Homo sapiens: one gene and its partners. The protein of the gene in region 1 purifies or fractionates together with the protein of each later gene. This does not show direct contact. Each region holds a gene or a part of one and is shown on either strand. Other genes may lie near its edges. The genes, in order: NUCB2, SDF4, MGARP, CALU, NAE1 and XPNPEP3.

Region 1 (3,973 bases):
GTTTTCCTGCACCTTTGCATTATGCATCTGGTGCTCTCAGGGCAGAAAACTTGTCTTTCAGTTTGTAGGTGGCCAGAACACAAGGAGCCACACCCTAACATGATGGAGGGGACTGTCTCCAGATAGCATGGTCTTTCATCTAGTATGCAATAATGGGCTGGATTTCTGGTGGTTTCTCTTCAGGGAGAGAGGGGTGAGTGTTTTCTCTCTCGGAAGAAGAAGGTACACAGAATTTAGGTAGCCAACAAGGCTGGCTGAGTTTAAAATCCAAAGTTGCCTACCAAACATTCCCTCTTCCCTTCTTCCTTAGTAAAAGAATCCAACTTTTAGCTGGTCACATTGCCACATTGACTTCTCAGCCTCCCTAGCAGCTAGGTGTGGCCATCAGTGTGACCCAGTTCTGGTCGAAACATAAGTTCAGGTGCTGCTGGTTCTGGAAAATGGCCTCAGGGAAGCTAACTCAAGCAGAGAAAGTCCAGTTTTCTTGCCTTCCCCACTGCCTCCAGGAGCAAACTTGAACAGTGAGAGTGAGGTAATCTGAGGATAAAAATCATGCACTGAGGATAGCAGAGCAGAAAGATAGGAACCTGGACACCACCTACTTCTAGACTTATGTAAGAAGAAAAACTCCTATTTAGTTTAAACCACTGTTATCTTTGTTTTTTCTGTTATATGTAACATAACCTAATCTTAAATGATAAAGTATAGAGCAAAATAAAAAAGAATGAAAAATGACCTGAAGTGGTAGCAAAAGTGATTCAGGTGAAGAATTTCTAGCAGTTGAGGTTGCCAAAACTAGAAAAACGTTACCAGGAAACACAGGGAAATACTGTGGCCTTTCCAGAATTGTTAATATCAAACAGACATTTATTGAAAGAAGGAATGATAAGCACCCATAAAAGAATACCTATGTTTACGAGTAAGTGAGAGCAATCTAATTTAAAAGCAAGAGGCAGAGTTTTCTCACTTAAATAGTTCCTAATAGTTTCACTAAATTATGGCATAAAGCCACTTAATTAAATCATTAAAGGAGAACAAAAAAATAAATAAAAGAGCCGTGTGAATGTGAGAGCAGAGAGCAGACAGTGAGTTTGTTTTCTTCCTGGTTCTGATAAACTTCAATCCTTTAATATCTGTGTCCCAAAAAAAGTGTTTTCATTTAAAAAGTATCTCCCTTTATTTCAAATATGCTTTTAAAATATTTATTGAGCAGAGAAAAAGGAAGGGAGCTAAAAAGATGAAATAGATGTTGAGTTAACAGCTTTCTTCCAAGTTCTGGTGGACTTCAGACTTTAAATGTCTGTTGGAAAAAAGAAAAAAGTTCTTATTTTAAAAGTATCTTCCTTTATTCTAAATGTTCCTTCATATACAAATATACTTGTTTTAAAAAATATGCTTAGCTAATCATAGATCACAATTTTAAAAAACATATTCTCTGGTAAGATTAATATAATTAGAAAGAATTACAAATAAAGTTGAAATAAATCATTTTACCATAAATATGGTTATCAAATTATACAAATGATACAGCACTTAAAATTTGCTGCTACATAAAACTTTTGGAGGCATTTTCATTTTTCTATAATCTAAATTGCTCTAATACCACAAAAAATACACAAAAAATAACATAACATCTTAATGATTTGAAATTATATTTGTAATAAATGTGGATTTCAATTGATAAAATAATTTATTTTCCTAAATAAATAATCAAACAAAATTACACACGTGGCTCAAACTTCAATTCTCCAGCTGGCCCTGATGGAGGAATTCCTTGTTGTAATTTTTTTTGTTCCATCTGCTGTATGACCTGGTGAATGGAAAATGAAAGTTAAAAGTATAACTTGATTTTCTATCATATGTGTGACCTTTGACAAAGCACAACAAAGTAAATGAAAATTGTTTTCTAAAACAAAGATATTCAAACTATAAGATTTAGATTTGACTAGGTGCAGTGGCTCACGCCTATAGTCCCAACAATTTCAGAGGCCCAGGTGGGAAGATCACTTAAGGCCAGGAGTTCGAGACCAGCCTCGGCAACACAATGAGACCTGGTCTCTACAAAAAATATTAACATTAGCCAGGAACACTGGCATGCACCTGTAGTCCTAGCTACTGGGGAGGCTGAGGTGGGAGGATCACTTGAGCCCAGGAGTTTGAGGCTGCAGTGAGCTATGATCACAGCACTATACTCCAGCCTGGGAGACAGGCTGTCTCAAAATAAAATAAAATGAAATAAAATAAAATTTAGATTAATATTCCACAAAACAGTTTTAAAGTATTAAAATTTAAAATACTATAGTATAGCTATAGCAGTGTACTATATAGTACAATGAAATATGTTACAAAAACACAGGCTTTTAACAAAGCACCTAAAATCTTTTTAATGCCATAATCTTTTGACAAAATGCCACCTGATGATATTCCAGCTTCTGAGCCTCCAGTTGATCATGCTGACGTTGTAGCTCTTCTTTTTGTTTCTGAAGCTCATCTGCCTTCTTCTTAAGTTCATTTTCTTGTAAAGCAATAATATTTTCATATTCTTTTAGTTCTTCCTCTGTGAAGAACTGTTGCTGATCTAATGTCTAAAAGAAAAAAAATGAGGAAAGAATAATCTCAAAACTACAACAATAAAGTCTGATTTAGCTTTAAAATTCTATGGTTAGCAAAGTATAAAAGAGTATCTATAGGATTACGCCTTTGGAGGTAAGAAGGAAGGGGAAATAAGTAATATATATTTATGTACTCATTTGAACAAAAGGAAAAACAGGAAGAAAAACTCAAGAGATTCTCTTCTGGGATTGACAACTAAAGGCAAAGAGTGAGAACTGGGTAGAAGAGGCAAAGAGAACGTGGGAAGAGAAATAAAATTTGTCATTCCCCCCAACCCTCACTGAAACATGAAATTTTAACAGCTGTCTGCACACAGAAAAGCACAAGAAGCAAACATCAGGTGAGCACTCACAGTACCTGGTTTCAACTTCATATCACCTGCAAAGACACTGAGAAGGGCAAAAGAGACAGTCTTGAATCACCTATGCCACCTCTCTCCCATTCCCTCGTGGCAGACCTGCAGCACAGAGAGTCTGTGCCCTCTGGGGAGGGAGCATAGCGACTGGGGGACTTTACATTGAACTCAGTGCTGCCCTGTCACAGCAGAGAATAAAGCTGTGCTGGGCTCCACCACTGCCCATGCATAGGAGCATTTGAAGCAGCCCTAGCCAGAGGAGAATCACCCATCCCAGCAATGGGCACTGAATTTCCTGGCAGGCCTCACCATGCGGGCTGAAGTGCTCTGGGGTCCTAGGTAAACTTGAAAGGCAGTCTAGGAAAGGAGGACTGTAATTCCTAGGCAACTCCTAGTGCTAGGCTGGGCTTAGAGCCAGTGAACTAGGGTAGCAGGTGACCAGGGGAGATACCAGCTGGTGAGGCTAAGGGAACGCTTGTGCTACCCCTCCCCCAACCTCAGGCAGTGCAGCTTGTGGCTATGAAAGTGACTCCTTTCTTGAGGAAAGGAGAGGAAAAAGTAAAGAGGGCTTTGTTTTGCATCTTGGATACCAGCTAAGCCATAGTAGGATAGGACACCAGGCAGAGTTGTGAGGACCTGATTCCAGGCCCTAGCTCCCAGGTGACATTTCTAGACATACCCTGCTGGCCCAAAAGGAAACTGCTGCCTTAAGGGAGCAGTCCTGGCAGGCTTCATCACTTGCTAAGTAAAGAGCCCCTGGGCCCTGAATAATCAGCGGCAAGACCCATGGAGTATGCTGTGGGTCTTGGACTGAGACATGCTGGCTTCGGGGTGACCCAGCACATTCCCAGCTGTAGTGGCTATGGCGAGAGACCCCTGTTTGAGGAAAGCAGAGGGAAAGTAAAGGCGATTTTTGTCTTGCACCCTAGGTACCAGCTCAGCCACAATGGGGTAGACCAACAAGCAGTCTTTTGGAGTCCCTGAGTCCAGGCCTTGGCTCTTGGA
Region 2 (2,785 bases), on another chromosome or scaffold:
CAGACCCCCAATACATGGATGGCCCTGACTCCCCACAGACACAGCCCAGACCCCCAGGACATGGCCTGGACCCCCCACACAGCCCAGACCTCTCAAGACATGATCCAGAACCTCCCCATGGCCCAGACCACCCCAGGACACAGCTCAGAGCCCCTCATGCCTGGGACCCCTCAGGATGGGCCTGGGCCCCACCCCCCACACCCGCGCCTGCCCCTCTGGAGGAGCGGAATCACCCTGAAGGCTGACGTGCGCACGGCGCCGCGGGGCGAAGGACTCACTGCCCTTTTCCGTTTCCTTCACGTGTGACGTCACAGGGAGGAAAACACAGTTTCTAGAAATGACTGAGACTGGGGCTGAGCAGAGCTTCCCAGGAACCCTCCCAGCCGGGACACGGCACTGCCTCTGGGTGTGTGGCCCCCGCTCTCCTGCCGTGCCCACCCGGCCCCAACGGGCCCTCACCCCGAGGTCCCCACACATCCCAAGGACCCAAGCCACCCTGGGTCTCCAGGACAGAAACACCACCTCCTGCCCCATCTTGGGGCTCACTGCAGTCAGTGGCCAAGTCCAGTGTTGAGGCCCACACTCAGCCCCCTGCACGTGAGGCCCGACTCTGCCCTGGCCGAAGCCCCTGCCACAAGCCCGGCAGCCTCTGCGTCGCGCTCACTGCGGGATGAGGCCCAGCTGCCGTCCCATCTTATCCCTTTCTGAACAACCTCCATCTACACGACCGGTTCACTTAAAGGAAGACAGGAGTGACGGGGCTGTGGTTCCTGGGGCACCCCTCCCTGTCTGCTCCACCGCAGCTCCTGGGATGGATGGACGGGGCCAAACTGAGACCCATCCAGGAGAGGCACAGACGCCCCAGACAGGCCGGCCGAGAGACGCTTTCTCCAGCACAGGATTCTCACAGCCGCCGCCGAGCCCCAGCACCAACCTCAGGCTGGTGAAGAAGCCTTGAGTCCCAGTCCCTCCCCACGAGCCGGGCCTCTGCTGTTAGGGAAGGATCTGGAGAGACCCTCCTGGATCAGGGAGAGTCAACGACTGCTGTCCCTGTGAGAAGAGGACGCAGACCCAGAGAGAGGCAGCGATGGAGGCGGGGGAAGGGAGTGATGCCCGCCTGCCACGCCTTCACCGCGGTCCCCAGAATCAGGTCTGAGGCGCGAGGACAGCAGCCCCCGGACTCACGCGGTGACCCTCGCAGGAGCCATGCAGGGAGGGGTGGGAGGTCGCAGGAGTGACGCCTGCCAGCGCTTCCCAGGCCCCTCCTCCAGGACCCGGCAGCTGCTCTTCCTGAGCCAGAAACCAAATACCCAAAGAGGTCGGGGGGTCCTAGGCACCCTGAGGTCGGGGAGGCCAAGACGGATCGGACACGGGTGGGCAGGGAACAGCACCTCAGCATGCATGGGGACCCCCAAAACGCAGAGTGAATTCTAAACACACCTCTGCTGAGTCCCAAAGGTAGACGGAGGCTTCACAGAAATGTCACAGAGCTCTAGGTCCAGGTGGGCCATGTCCTGGGCAGAAAAGACCCAAATAAAGTGGCACCAAGGAAAGACAGACACAATCAGAGTTGGGGGGCGGGCACGGGCAAGGCCTCCTGCCCCAAGCACATCGCCAACAGGCCGGACCAACGGGATGAAGCTTAAAGACGCAGTCAGGACAGCAGGGAACGCGGGACCGGGGTGGAGGCACGAACCGTGTGTGGGGAGGAAAATGTAAACCACTCTTTTGGAAAGGAAGTAATAACGTCCAATTTGGCCGGGCACTGGGGCTTGTGCCTGTAATCCCGGCATGCTGGGAGGCTGCGGCAGGCAGATCCCTTTAGCCCAGGACTTTGAGACCAGCCTGGGCAACACAGGGAGATCCTCTTACTTTTAGTTTTTTTAATGTCCAATTTGCAGGATTTAGAACGGACAGGACCAAACTCCAGATAAGAGTACGTGAACTGGGAAAAGAGCAGGCAGAGCCAACAGGCTCAAAAGTCTCCGCGTCATTCTAGAAGGTCAAGGCCAGGCACAGGGGCTCATGCCTGCAACCCCAGGATGGGGAGAGGCCAAGGCAGGCGGGTCACTCGCGCCTGCAACCCCAGGACGGGGGGAGGCCGAGCGGGTCACTTGAACCCTCTGAAATCCAAGAGTTTGAGACCTACCTAGGCAACATGGGGAGACCTTGTGTCTACAAAATATATGTTTTTGAATCAGCTGGGCATGGTGGCACACACTGGTGGTCCCAGTCACTCAGGAGGCCGCCCCCATGGGGGCTGGTCACATGATATGGGCCGTTCCTGGCAGGAACGTATCTTACACCTTTATTTTTCTGTCCTCCAAGGAGGATAGATTGAGCCCAGGATGTGGAGGCTACAGGTGAGCTGAGATCGCACCACTGCACTCCAGCCTGGGCAACAGTGAGGCCCTCACTCTTAAACAATTAAAAATTAAAAATTAAAAAAAGAAAGAGGCTAAGACTAGGCGCAGTGGCTCACGCCTATAATCCCAGCACTTTGGGAGACTGCAGTAGGCGGATGACTTAAGTCCAAGAGTTTGAGACCAACCCGGCCAACACGGCAGAATCTATCCGTACAAAAAATACAAAAATTAGCCAGGCGCGGTGATGGTGCCTGTGGTCCCAGCTTCTGAGGTAGGAGGATCGCCTGAGCCCTGGAAGGTACAGCTGCAGGGAGCCGAGACTGCACCACTGCACTGCAGGCTGGGTAGCAGAGTGAGACCGTCTCATGAAAAAAGAAAGAAGAGGTGGTTTGCCTTGAGACTCTGGTGAGGAAATGTGT
Region 3 (2,281 bases), on another chromosome or scaffold:
GACAGGGTCTCACTATGTTGCCCAGGCTGGTCTTGATCTCCTGGCCTCATGTGATCCCTCCTGCCTCAGCCTCCCAAAGTGCTGGGATTACAGGCATATGCCACTATGCCTAGCCACTTCTTGCTTTAAACCATACTTTTTTCCAAGCTATTATTATCAATTACTATGATCACTATTTAGGGATAGAGATATTAGGGGCTTATGAATCAGTTTTAACCTGTCATGACAATAATAAGAAACAGAATATCATCAATACATATTATTGAATATAATCATGCGGTTGTTTATAATACTAATAAGCATTTGCATAGAACTTTTTATTTTAATCCCCTTTTCATATACAGTATTTTAATTAATCTTTACAATAACCCTGTGCAGTAGATATTATCAATACCCTATTTTACAGATGACAAAAATGAGATTGAGAGAGGATTAGTGATTTCTGAGTCACCAGCTAGGAACTTGGCTACTCTTCCATGCTGTCTCATATGAAAGGTGAATAGGATAGCTACTTATTTTTGTATTCTTCATATTTGCCTAAGTAATATATTCAAGTGTGTTTTTTTTTAAGTTCAAAGAGTTTACAGAAAAGCAGATCCCCCATTTTCCCTCCAAGAGGCAACCAATAGAACCAGTTTCTTGGAATCCTCCTGGAGAGTTTTTGCAAATACAATTATCTAGGCATACAACTTACCCCCCTCCTGCTCCAACCTCATTTTGCCCTAACAATAGTAGCAGACTGTATACATTGTTCTTTTTTTGCTGTTTCACTTGAGAGTCTACCTTGAAGACTGTTACACATCAGTGCATGTAGTTCTGTCTTAGGTGTTTAAACGACCGCAGTGTTTCATTGCCTTCCCACGATCTTTAAATTAATACCTTGCTTAATGACTAATTCTTAAAGGTGAAAAGGAGAATGTTGCGGAAACTGAGAAAGCAAGTTCAGAAGCCCCAGAAGAACTTATAGTGGAAGCTGAGGTGGTAGATGCTGAAGAAAGTCCCAGTGCTACAGTTGTGGTCATAAAAGAGGCATCTGCCTGTCCAGGTCACGTGGAGGCTGCTCCGGAGACCACAGCAGTCAGTGCTGAAACCGGGCCAGAGGTCACAGATGCAGCGGCGAGGGAAACCACGGAAGTAAACCCTGAAACAACCCCAGAGGTTACAAATGCTGCCCTGGATGAAGCTGTCACCATCGATAATGATAAAGATACAACAAAGAACGAAACCTCTGATGAATATGCTGAACTAGAAGAAGAAAATTCTCCAGCTGAGTCAGAGTCCTCTGCTGGAGATGATTTACAGGAGGAAGCCAGTGTTGGCTCTGAGGCTGCTTCGGCTCAAGGCTAATCTCCAGCCGGTAGACATTTCAGCAACAAATGCCATAGGGTGTCTGATAAGTGCTTTTGTGTTTTTAGTACACTTAGTTTAAAAAAAAAAAGACTTATTTTCTAGAAAACGTTAATGGGTCTTGAAGATTTTTGGCATCCACTGATAGATTTTAGGACTGAGAGACTTGAGATTGTACATTTCTTACTACTCTTCTACTGTCTGAGATCAGAATATGACATTGCAGTAAAGAGCTTAAATAGTTTCATCTTTGGTTTTTTTTTCTAGACACTTTTCTTTTATCCCAGTCATCTCTGAATTTACATTTTATATTAAAGAAATTGAGCTATCCATACAACCTGTATTTACTTTAATTTCACTATGCTTTCAGCTTACTTTATTGTATGATATGTAGGTCTAAAATATAGTTTGAGTCAAATAAAATTAGAAAAGCTTTGGTGCTTCTACTTTTTTCACTAATATTTGCATGTACAAATAATACATATTAACATACAGGTACATAACATCACATGAGAAATGTAGGCTTTCGTAATATTATTGAAGAAAGAGCATATAATCTATGGAGAACCCTGCATGTAACAATATGTATGCCCTCTCCCATCTATAGTACTTACACAGGGGACTATGTAGATATTTTCTGTTTCAGTTCAGTTCAAACAATATTTATTGAAGATTAGCACTTTGTGCCAGGAATCTTTCATTCATTCACGTGTTCAACAAATATTAGCTGAGCACTTACAACATAATAGGTATTGTTTTAAGTGCTCCCGGTTTATATTCTAGAGTGGAACCAGGTAAGAAGACAAATGAGAAAATGATATAGTGTGTTAGGTACTGATAAGTGCTAAGGATAAAAGTAACGAAAATAAAAGGATTGTAAGTGTTAGTCTGAGGTGGAAGTTGTAATTTTAGATAGGATGGCCAAAAGAGGCCT
Region 4 (3,500 bases), on another chromosome or scaffold:
GTCCCACTTTATAAAAGAAAGGCATATTTTCAACCATTTTGAAACTAGAGTGTAAAAAGCTCCAAGATAATGAAAAAGAAACAATTAGAAATACTAGTGTCTGGATGGGCGTGGTGGCTCACACCTGTAATTCCAGCACTTTGGGAGGCCTAGGCAGGCAGATCACCTGAGGTCGGAGTTTGAGACCAGATCACCTGAGGTCAGGAATTTGAGACCAGCCTGGCCAAAATGGCAAAACCCCATCTCTACTAAAAATACAAAAATTAGCTGAGCATGGTGGTGCGTGCCTGTAATCCCAGCTACTCGAGAGGCTGAGGCAAAAGAATCACTTGAACCCAGGAGGCAGAGGTTGCAGTGAGCCGAGATCATATCACTGCACTCTAGCCTGGGCGACAGAGCAAGACTCCGTCTCAAAAAAAAAAAAAAAAAAAAAGAAAAAGAAATACTAGTGTCAGTCTTGAGAATGCAAATGCCTGAAAAAAAATGAATAAATTCGTTTGCATGTCAAAAGGTTTTAAATTCTTTGCTTTAAAAAAAAAAACCTTGAAAAATGGCCTAATTGAGTTTTAGCTAAGGGATCATTAAACATAATTTTTGGGCTGGGTGCAGTGGCTCATGCCTGTAATCCCAGCACTTTGGGAGGCTGAGGCGGGTGGATCACTTGAGGTCAGGAGTTTGAGACCAGCATGGCCAACATGGTGAAACCCCGTCTCTACTAAAAATAAAAAATAAAATTAGCCGGGCGTGCTGGCCCACACCTGTAATCTCCAGCTACTGGGGAGGCTGAGGCAGGAGAATCGCTTGAACCCCAGAGGCAGAGGTTGCAATGAGCCGAGACCGTGCCTGTGTACTACAGCCTGGGTGAGAGAGAGAGACTCCACCTTGAAACAAACAAAACCCATAATTTTTGATGATAGATTACATGATTTCTGGCATGTAACTCAAAAGGAGTTCCAAGAACTAAGCAATATTGCTATGACAAATCTTCCATCAACTTATTTACTAATGTAAACAAGGTCTGTTAGTACTTCCTCTAAAAAATAAAAATTAGGAATTGGTGCTGAATCCCATTTCACTCTAGGGATAAGTAATTGTCATCCATGGATATGAAACTATTTGAATAAAAATGTGTCAAAGAAATGCATTTAAAAATATATAAACATAAAACGTCTGTAATAAATGTTATTTTGTTCAATTGTGTATTAATAATTGTAATAGTAACTTAACACAGAAGACTCTAAAAACACTTAAGAGCCATATCACAGAACACCATTTTCCATATTTCAATTTACATACACAATGTTCTTGCAAATAAGAATGTCAAAGTGACTAAGGCTTCAAGATAAAATATGTCAGAATATAATTCTGTTGAGGAAGTAAACTGCAAATGAATCTAACAAATAGAAGGCTGACTTGTGAGTTTGAGATCAGCCTGGACAACATGGCAAAATCCCTACAAGAAATACAAAAATTAGCCAGGCATGGCAGCATGCACCTACAGTCCCAGCTACTCGGGAGGCTGAGGCAGGAGGATGGCTTGAGCCTAGCAGATCGAGGCTGCAATGAACCATGATCATGCCACTGCACTCCAGCCTAGGTGACAGAGTGAGACCCTGTCTCAAAAAGAAAAAGAAAAAAAAGAAACAGGAGGTCGGGTGGCTGATGTCTGTAATCCCAGCACTTTGGGAGGCCAAGGCAGGTAGAGCTCTTGAGCCCAGGATTTCCAGACCAGCCTGGGCAATGTAGGGAGACCCATGTCTATAAGAATAATAATAAAAAAAATCAGCTGGGTGTGGTGGTGCTCTTCTGTGGTCCCAGCTGAGGTGAGAGGATCACTTGATCTCCCCACCTTGGAGATCGAGGCTGCTGTGATTGTGCCACTGCACACCAACATGGGCAACAGAATGAGACTCTTGTCTTTTTAAAAAAGAAGAAGAAGAAGAAACAGGATGCGTGTAAAATGTCCAAGTTGGTTAACAGTTTATTCATTTATTTTTTTAAGACAATATCATGTGGTGACTGATAAGTAGTATAAATATCCCCAAATCCCTATAAATTTAAACAAAAAAAAGGGCAATTAAGTGATGGTCACATTGTTGCTAACCAAACGCCATAACTAAAAAAAAAAAAGTACCAAAGAAACATTTCCTTTTTAACTATTATGAAATGTAAAAAATTACGGATATTTTCTTATATACCCACAATGCCACTTTCATATTTTACAAAATCAATTCCTTGGTATCATCTAATACCCAGACTGAATTTAAATTTCTTGATTATCTTTTTAAAGTTGTCGTGTCCAAATTATTCATATGAAAGACGGCAGGTAAGAAGTTGCTATGGTATCTTGTATTTAAATTTTATAGATTTCTTTCCGAATTACTTTCAAAATGTCAATGCTTATCACCAACAGAGATTATTCTTTTTTCTTCTGAGACAGGGTCTTGCTCTGTTGCCCAGGCTGGAGTGCAGTGGTACAATAACGGTGCACTGCAACCTCAAACCCTCAGGCTCAAGTGATCCTCCTGAGTTGCTGGGACTACAGGCACACGCCACCATGCCTGGCTAATTTTTTCTTTTTTTTTGTATTTTTTGTAGAGACAGGGTTGCGCCATGTTGTCCAGGTTGTTCTCAAACTCCTGGGCTCAAGTGATTCACCTGCCTCAGCCTCCCAAAGTTCTGGGATTACAGGAATGAGCTACGGCATCCGGCCCAACAGAGACTATTCTTTACAACTGTTTAAATTTCTTAATTAAATATTTCAGATGCCAACTTTAAAACACATAAGGGAATGCTGTTGGTCAAATTCTTTCAGGAGTTATTTAAGTGAACAAGTCTGAAAATGCTTGAGTTATACGACATCTAAGTTAAGTGTACCTGCATTGCATGTAAGGTATGGGAAAACACCTAAAGAGAAATCTAAATAGTTCCTGCAAGTTCTAAGCAAAGGTAATTATTTAGTCAGTGCTGCCATTTTCCTGACCTTGAGGGTTAAGGGTAGAAGTACTCCTCTGTCTTAAACTCACAAGAGAAATTCCTCACAGCAGGACTTGCCAATTTTTTCCCATGCTACAGCACATTCAGAAAATGTAGTTTGTACGGTCCACTGGATCAGGTTCCTGCCCTAGCTGTCCTGAAAGCCAAGAAGACTTACTCACAGGATACAGATTGGAAAGTTCTGAATTAGGAAATAGACACATGCTTAAAAGATATGGTTTTAAAGGAAGCTAGAATACACAATACACTACAACGTAAGCGCATTTTAAAGCTAGGTGACCATGATAAACTATTTGAATTTCTATTTTTATTTATTTTACTTTATTTTTTTGAGACAGAGTCTTGCTCTGTCGCCCAGGCTGGAGTGCAGTGGCGCGATCTCGGCTCACTGCAACCTCCGCCTCCTGGGTTCAAGCGATTCTCCTGCCTCAGCCTCCTGAGTAGCTGGGATTACACAGGCACATGCCACCACACCTGGCTAATTTTTATATTTTTAGTAGAGA
Region 5 (3,500 bases), on another chromosome or scaffold:
CTGCCTCAGCCTCCCAAGTATCTGGGATTACAGGCACCCGCCACCATGCCCAGCTAATTTTTTTTTTTTTTTTTTTGAGACGGAGTCTCTCTCTTTTGCTCAGGCTGGACTGCAGTGGCGCGATCTTGGCTCACTGCTACCTCCACCTCCCGGGTTCACGCCATTCTCCTGCCTCAGCCTCCCGAGTAGCTGGGACTACAGGCGCCCGCCACCGTGCCCGGCTAATTTTTTGTATTTTTAGTAGAGATGGGGTTTCACCATGTTAGCCAGGATGGTCTCAATCTCCTGACCTCGTGATCTGCCCGCCTTGGCCTCCCAAAGTGCTGGGATTACAGGCGTGAGCCACCGCACCCGGCCGCCCAGCTAATTTTTTGCATTTTTAGTAGAGACAGGATTTCACCATGTTGGCCAGGCTGGTCTCGAACTCCTGACCTCAGGTGATCCACCCGCCTTGGCCTCCCAAGGTGCTGGGATTACAGGTGTGAGCCACTGCACCAGGTCCGTCCAATCTTTTATTTCATTCTCATGCAGGCTTTAGGTTCTCTCAATTCAGGTGCAATTTCACACAACAAAGACATTTACATAACTACTGTTCCCAAGGAAACTGTTGTAAGAGACCAAAGTCGTTTATAGGCAGACCTCCATCAGCTGAGGGTTTATATAAGCCCTTTACTTATAAAATTTTAATCTTAGATGATCATAAAATTTTCATCCAGTATTCAAAACAGTGCTCTTTATTGACTCAAGAAAACATTTTTACTATGAGCCAAGCACTCTGCTAATGTGGTGATAGCCATTGGCATTGGTAGCATCACTGAGGAGTAATATCTGTGTGGGCAGTTAGGGAGTGCTTGTCAGGATAAGCTCTGGCTGCTGGTGGTGAGCCATTTAAGAGTTGAAAGTGGTGTCAACTGATGGGAGGGAACAAAAGAGTTGAAAGTGGGAGAGTGACCATGTAAACATTTTATTTTAAATGGGTCACTTTGAAGTTGAGTGGAAAGTAAATGGATTTAAAGGGGCAAAGATTGGAGGCAGTGATTGCTGTTAGAAATTTCCAGTGGCCTAAGTAAGAGAGAGTGTGTTCTTTTTCCTAATTTAGGGAAGAGAAGAAGAGAGGGTAGATAATAATGAAGGTTCAGCATTACTAGTTGTGTGCCTGCCTTTATAAGAATTATTTCATTTACTCTTTCCAAAACCTTTATAAGGTACAGATTGAGTATCCTTAATCCAAAAATCCAAAATCAGAAATGCTCCAAAATGCAAAACTTTTTGAGAACTGACATAATATTCAAAGGAAACACTCATTGGAACATTTCTTACTTCAGATTTTTGGGTTAGAGAGCTCATCTAATATGTATTTGCAAATATACCAAAAACTCAACAAAATCCAAAACACTTATGGTCCCAAGCATTTTGGATAAGAGAGATATACAATCTGTAGATACTTTAATATCTGCTTTTTATAGATGATGCTGAGGCAATGAGAGATTAAATTATTTGCCTAAGGTCACATAGTTAGCAAGTGACAGAACTGGGCCTACCTCTAAGCACTCACTGAAATTATACACTCTCCTGTCCTCTCTCATGTGGAGAGCAGTGTACAGAGTGAGATTAGGAAGTGGGGAGTTACTGATGTTGGGGCCAAGGAAGCAAGAAGTGAAGGATGCCCATCAGGTTTCTGGAGAAGAAGTCTAGGTAGATGGTGATGCTGTCTATTGAAGACCACAAGAGGAGGAAGGATAGGTTGTTAGTTGCTATCTGTACCTAGGGTTTGTCAATGTTGAGCTTTTCCAGTTAGAACAAATTGTGTTCTAAAGGAATCTTGGTTTTACTTTTACTAAAACTTTATAGTTGACTTAAGATTTCTGCATTTTACTATATGTAAATCGTACCTTAATAAAACAGTGAAAAAACCTGTGGGCCCTGTGTCCATTTAAAAATTAAAGATTTCCTAAGTTTCTATAATTCAATGTATTGTCATCAGTATTGCCAAAGAATTAAGTTTATCTTTTGAGCTGGGCACGGTGGCTCACACCTGTAATGCAAGGACTTTGGGAGGCCGAGGCAGGAGGAGCCCTTGAATCCAGGAGTTTGAGACTAGCCTGGGTGACATAGTGAGACCCTATCCCTACAAAAAAATTAGCTGGGCACAGTGACACGAGACTGTAGTCCCACCTTCTCAGGAGGCTGAGGTGGGAGGATCCCTTCAGCCCAGGAGTTTCAGCAGTGAGCTGTGATTGTGCCACTGTACTTCAGCCTGGGTAATACAGCAAGACCCCATCTCTCTCTTTTTTTTTTTTAAGTGTTAAATTTATCCTTTTGAATTCTTTGTTTCACAGTAATAGAATCTCATCCAGATAATGCATTAGAGGATCTACGACTAGATAAGCCATTTCCTGAACTGAGAGAACATTTTCAGTCCTATGATTTGGATCATATGGAAAAAAAGGTTGGTAGTGTGTGTGACCTTACATTTACAGATAGACTTAAAACATTTTTTTAACCTAAGGTTTTTGAATTACACTAAAGTGAGAAAATCCTATAAACTTCCATATTCCTGTCATCCCGATTACCCAATAACAGTATTTTACCTTGTTTTCAACATATTAATTTTTCTCCAAAATTAAAAAACTTTTTTACTGAAGAAAAGTACATATACTGAACATCTGTGTAATCACTACCCAGGTCAAGAAATTGGACATTAACCTATTCCAGGTGGGGAGATGGGGATGGTTAATGGGTACCAAAAAAAAATTAGAAAGAATAAATAAGATTTACTCCTTGAAAGCACAACAAGGTGACTATAGTTAGTAATAACAACTCAGTTATACATTTTAAAATAATTAAAAGAGTTTAATTGGATTATTTGTAACATAAAGGATAAACGCTTGAGGGGATAAATGCTATACAGATACCCCATTCTCCATGATGTGCTTATTTCACATTGCATGCCTGTATCAAAGCATGTACCCCATAAATATATACACCTAAGTACCCACAAAAATTGAAAGTAAAAAATTTTAAAACAAAAAACAGAAATAAAAAAATTCCAAGAAGTTCTCTTTATGGACTTTTTCTAAACAAATAGAAATAATGACATAACACTATAAGGCGTATATGTATTTTTTCCCACTTCCATATTAATTAACATGCAGTTGCTTATTTGGTTCATCAGAAAACAGAAAAGATCCTCCTTTCTTACTTAGGATTGGTGTCTGAAATTGAGATTTGAGCTGTGTTTTTGGGTGGCAGTCTCTGAGACTGTTTTGCTGGTATAATGGGGACAATCATAGTATATATGTGACATACTAGGTATCTGCCTCTAGAAAAATTTGTAAAGCAGTTTTTATTAACTCAGTTCATTTTCGTCTATTCACTACTCTGCATATATTAGGAGATCATAAATATTGTTGAATTTGTTGAAAACGAGATGGTACAGTGAAGAATTCATAATACTGATATTTTCTTTTATTTGTCTCTCATTTTTAGGACCACAGTCA
Region 6 (3,500 bases), on another chromosome or scaffold:
CGATTCTCCTGCCTCAGGCTCCCGAGTAGCTGGGATTACAGGCATGCACCACCACACATGGCTAATTTTTGTGTTTTTTTTAGTAGAGATGAGGTTTTACCATGTTGGCCGGGCTGGTCTTGAACTCCTGACCTCAGGTGATCTGCCTGCCTTGGCCTCCCAAAGTGCTGGGATTTCAGGCGTGAACCACCTCAGCTAGTCGGGAGGCTGAAGTGGGAGAATTGCTTGAGCCTGAGAGGCAGAGGTTTCAGTGAGCCGAGATCATGCCACTGCACTCCAGCCTGGGCAACAAGAGCGAAACTCTGTCTCAAAAAAAAAAAAAAAATTATATTCAATGAATATAACTGAGTGAGTAAAAGAATGAGCCAAAGACCTGGAAGAGATCTAAGGGGTCCATGATTCCAGATTTCAGGCGGGGCCACATTCAACTATCATTTCTTCCAAATTTTTGCAGTGGAATACAAGTTTGAAACCTGGTTATCTCCTTAATTCTCCATGTGCTGTGAGGAGATTTGGCATAAATTGAACAATTGGACTTGAGTATTTCCATCTAATATTAAACTACCTTAAGTACTTTGGCACTGCAGAAATGTAAAGCATCCCTTTTATTTGTCATTTCTAGGGGAGGTAACTCCAGGACTATCTCAGGTGGAATATGCACTTCGCAGACACAAACTAATGTCTCTGATCCAGAAGGAAGCTCAAGGGCAGAGTGGGACAGACCAGACAGTGGTTGTGCTCTCCAACCCTACATACTACATGAGCAACGATATTCCCTATACTTTCCACCAAGACAACAATTTCCTGTACCTATGTGGATTCCAAGAGCCTGATAGCATTCTTGTCCTTCAGAGCCTCCCTGGCAAACAATTACCATCACACAAAGCCATACTTTTTGTGCCTCGGCGAGATCCCAGTCGAGAACTTTGGGATGGTCCGCGATCTGGCACTGATGGAGCAATAGCTCTAACTGGAGTAGACGAAGCCTATACGCTAGAAGAATTTCAACATCTTCTACCAAAAATGAAAGGTAACAAATGGGAGCAGAAGTCACATTACAAACCAGATTGGGATTAAAACCTTTCTTGCCTGTTTAGACAAGTCCTTAATTTTGTTATCGTAGCACCACCATGAAAAGACCATGAGCACCATGAAAGAAATGTAAAGTCTTTTTCAGAAGATTGAGCTTCTTTAAAGATTTCATTTATGCCTGGTGCATTGGCTCACGCCCGTAATCCCAGCACTTTGGGAGGCCGAGGCAGACAGGTTCCTTGTGGCCAGGAGTTCAAGACCAACCTGGCCAACATGGCGAAACCCCGTCTCTACTAAAAATAGAAAAATTAGCCAGGCATGGTCGCAGGCGCCTGTAATCCCAGCTACTCAGGTGGCTCAGGCAGGAGAATCACTTGAGCCCGGGAGGTGGAGGTTGCAGTGATCCGAGATCATGCCACTGCATTCCAGCCTAGGCAACAAAGCAAGACTGTCTTAAAAAAAAAAAAAGATTCATTTATTCATTTGCAGGAGGTTACAGTGAGCCAGTGAGCTAAGATCCCGCCACTGCACTCCAGCCTAGGCGACAGAGCAAGACTCCATCTCAAAAAAAATAATAAAATGAAAGTATATAATTTAAGAGTTTTTGGTATAGTCATAGAATTGTGCAACCATCACCACAATGAATTTTAGAACATTTCAATTAAAAAAAAACTCCATGTTCACTGGATTATTCATTAATGGAGACTGTTACCTATCCTAGTTTGAAATCTCACAGAGAATTTTCTTTTAAAGCAAAGGATAAGCCAGACACAGTGGTGTACGTCTGTAGTCCAGCTACTGGAGAGGCTGAGGTAGAAGGATCGCTTGAGGCCAGGAGTTCAGGTCCAGACTGCACAACGTAGTGAGACCCCATCTCCAAAAAATAAATAAATTAAGGACAGGATGGGCATGGACCACTCTTCAAGATTACTGACCAGCTTCTTGATATTTGACAACTACTTCTTATCTTAGTGCTCTTGCCAGCTCTTCAAAAGGAGGTACTGTTCTCCAAGAACGATCCATGCATCACAGCATCAGAATCACCTGGTAATGCATATTAAAATTAAAAATGCATAATATGTAATAGAAATTAAAATCTCAGGCCTCCATCCCCTATCTACTGAATCAGAATCTGCATTTTAACAGATCTTTTGTGGTTCATATACAGTTGAGTTCTTTTTTTGTTTTTTTTTAGGCAGGGTCTCACTCTGTCACCCAGGTTGGGATGTAGGTATAGTGGCACACTCATGGCTCACTGCAACCTCGAACCCCAAAGCTCAAGCAGTCTTCCTGCCTCAGCCTCCAGAATACTGGGACTACCTGGGCACACCACTATGTCTGGCTAATTTTTTTTTATTTTTTTGTAGAGATGGAGTTTCACTTTGTTGCCTAGGCTGGTTTTGAACTCCTGGCCTCAAGTGAGCCTCCCACCTCAGCCTCCTGAAGTGCTGGGATTACAGGTGTGAGGCACCGTGCCTGGCCATAGTTGAGTTCTTGTCCCTCAAAGAAATTACTTTCTCTACAGTTATTCTGGTGAAATTTTAATCAATCCGAATGTTTTGAGATTTTTCTTCTGGGAATTTTTTCAGAACCTACACCACATTATAAACTATCTTTAGTAATTCTTAAAAAACTTTAGCTCTGGGAAGTATTTTATTTTTTGAAGTATCTTATTTGGAAAATAAGATAGATGCTCAAGTTTAAAAATACTGATTTTAGGTCAAGATAATGTATAATTATAAAGTTTTTGTTTGATTTTTCTTACATGGGTTACAAATCATATCTGAAGTTAGCTTCTAAAAGAGAATTCCAAAAATGTTTTTCACAATCATAAAATATATTAGACTGTTTCCTGTAAAGCCTCTTTTGGAAGAAAATACTCATTTGAATATGTAAGTTCTAATACATTTGATTAAATTCTTTTTATTTATAGAAATGTTTTCCATTTTATAGATAATTAGCCTGTTCAATTCATTGAACTTTCTTATGTCTTCAAAATCCACATAAATGTGGGGCATAGAATCATTTTCTTTCTAGCTTTTTTCTTACATTAGTTGCTACTTGTCATGTTCTACTGTCTAAGTTTTATTAATTCAGTATAGTTACAATCTCATGTAAAATAAATTTCTCAAAAGTACTTCTCGGTCACCATTCCTTTTTTTTTTTTTTTGAAACAGAATTTCGCTCTTGCCCAGGCTGGAGTGCAATGGCACCATCTCGGCTCACTGCAACTCCTGCCTCCCAGGTTCAAGTAATTCTCCTGCCTCAGCCTCCCGTGTAGCTGGGGTTACAGGCACGCGCCACCATGCCCGGGGAATTTTTCTGTTTTTTTTTAGTAGAGACAAGGTTTTACCATGTTAGTCAGGCTGGTCTCGAACTCCTGACCTCAGGTGATCCACCCCCCTCAGCCTCCCAGGGTGCTGGGATTACAGGCGTGAGCCACCGTGCCTGGCTAAAATCATATTTAT

The links.
Region 2: the proteins of NUCB2 (region 1) and SDF4 fractionate together in Homo sapiens (co-fractionation; one large-scale study listed by BioGRID). This does not show direct contact.
Region 3: the proteins of NUCB2 (region 1) and MGARP fractionate together in Homo sapiens (co-fractionation; one large-scale study listed by BioGRID). This does not show direct contact.
Region 4: the proteins of NUCB2 (region 1) and CALU fractionate together in Homo sapiens (co-fractionation; one large-scale study listed by BioGRID). This does not show direct contact.
Region 5: the proteins of NUCB2 (region 1) and NAE1 fractionate together in Homo sapiens (co-fractionation; one large-scale study listed by BioGRID). This does not show direct contact.
Region 6: the proteins of NUCB2 (region 1) and XPNPEP3 purify together in Homo sapiens (co-immunoprecipitation; one large-scale study listed by IntAct). This does not show direct contact.

Annotation. Positions count from the first base shown.
Region 1 is NC_000011.10:17,328,739-17,332,711, reverse strand, and holds the end of NUCB2 (nucleobindin-2 isoform 1 preproprotein), read right to left. Parts: intron 2,586-3,973; coding exon 2,415-2,585; intron 1,811-2,414; coding exon 1,729-1,810; intron 1,301-1,728; coding exon 1,293-1,300; 3' UTR 501-1,292; downstream 1-500. UniProt on the Homo sapiens protein: Calcium-binding protein which may have a role in calcium homeostasis. Acts as a non-receptor guanine nucleotide exchange factor which binds to and activates guanine nucleotide-binding protein (G-protein) alpha subunit GNAI3.
Region 2 is NC_000001.11:1,219,217-1,222,001, forward strand, and holds part of SDF4 (45 kDa calcium-binding protein isoform 2 precursor), read right to left. Parts: intron 1,515-2,785; coding exon of another isoform or gene 1,483-1,514; exon of another isoform or gene 1-1,482. UniProt on the Homo sapiens protein: May regulate calcium-dependent activities in the endoplasmic reticulum lumen or post-ER compartment. Isoform 5 may be involved in the exocytosis of zymogens by pancreatic acini.
Region 3 is NC_000004.12:139,265,665-139,267,945, reverse strand, and holds the end of MGARP (protein MGARP), read left to right. Parts: intron 1-904; coding exon 905-1,347; 3' UTR 1,348-1,781; downstream 1,782-2,281. UniProt on the Homo sapiens protein: Plays a role in the trafficking of mitochondria along microtubules. Regulates the kinesin-mediated axonal transport of mitochondria to nerve terminals along microtubules during hypoxia.
Region 4 is NC_000007.14:128,763,359-128,766,858, reverse strand, and holds part of CALU (calumenin isoform a precursor), read right to left. Parts: intron 1-3,500. UniProt on the Homo sapiens protein: Involved in regulation of vitamin K-dependent carboxylation of multiple N-terminal glutamate residues. Seems to inhibit gamma-carboxylase GGCX. Binds 7 calcium ions with a low affinity.
Region 5 is NC_000016.10:66,817,477-66,820,976, reverse strand, and holds part of NAE1 (NEDD8-activating enzyme E1 regulatory subunit), read left to right. Parts: intron 1-2,339; coding exon 2,340-2,449; intron 2,450-3,489; coding exon 3,490-3,500. UniProt on the Homo sapiens protein: Regulatory subunit of the dimeric UBA3-NAE1 E1 enzyme. E1 activates NEDD8 by first adenylating its C-terminal glycine residue with ATP, thereafter linking this residue to the side chain of the catalytic cysteine, yielding a NEDD8-UBA3 thioester and free AMP.
Region 6 is NC_000022.11:40,881,148-40,884,647, forward strand, and holds part of XPNPEP3 (xaa-Pro aminopeptidase 3), read left to right. Parts: intron 1-622; coding exon 623-1,030; intron 1,031-3,500. UniProt on the Homo sapiens protein: Catalyzes the removal of a penultimate prolyl residue from the N-termini of peptides, such as Leu-Pro-Ala. Also shows low activity towards peptides with Ala or Ser at the P1 position.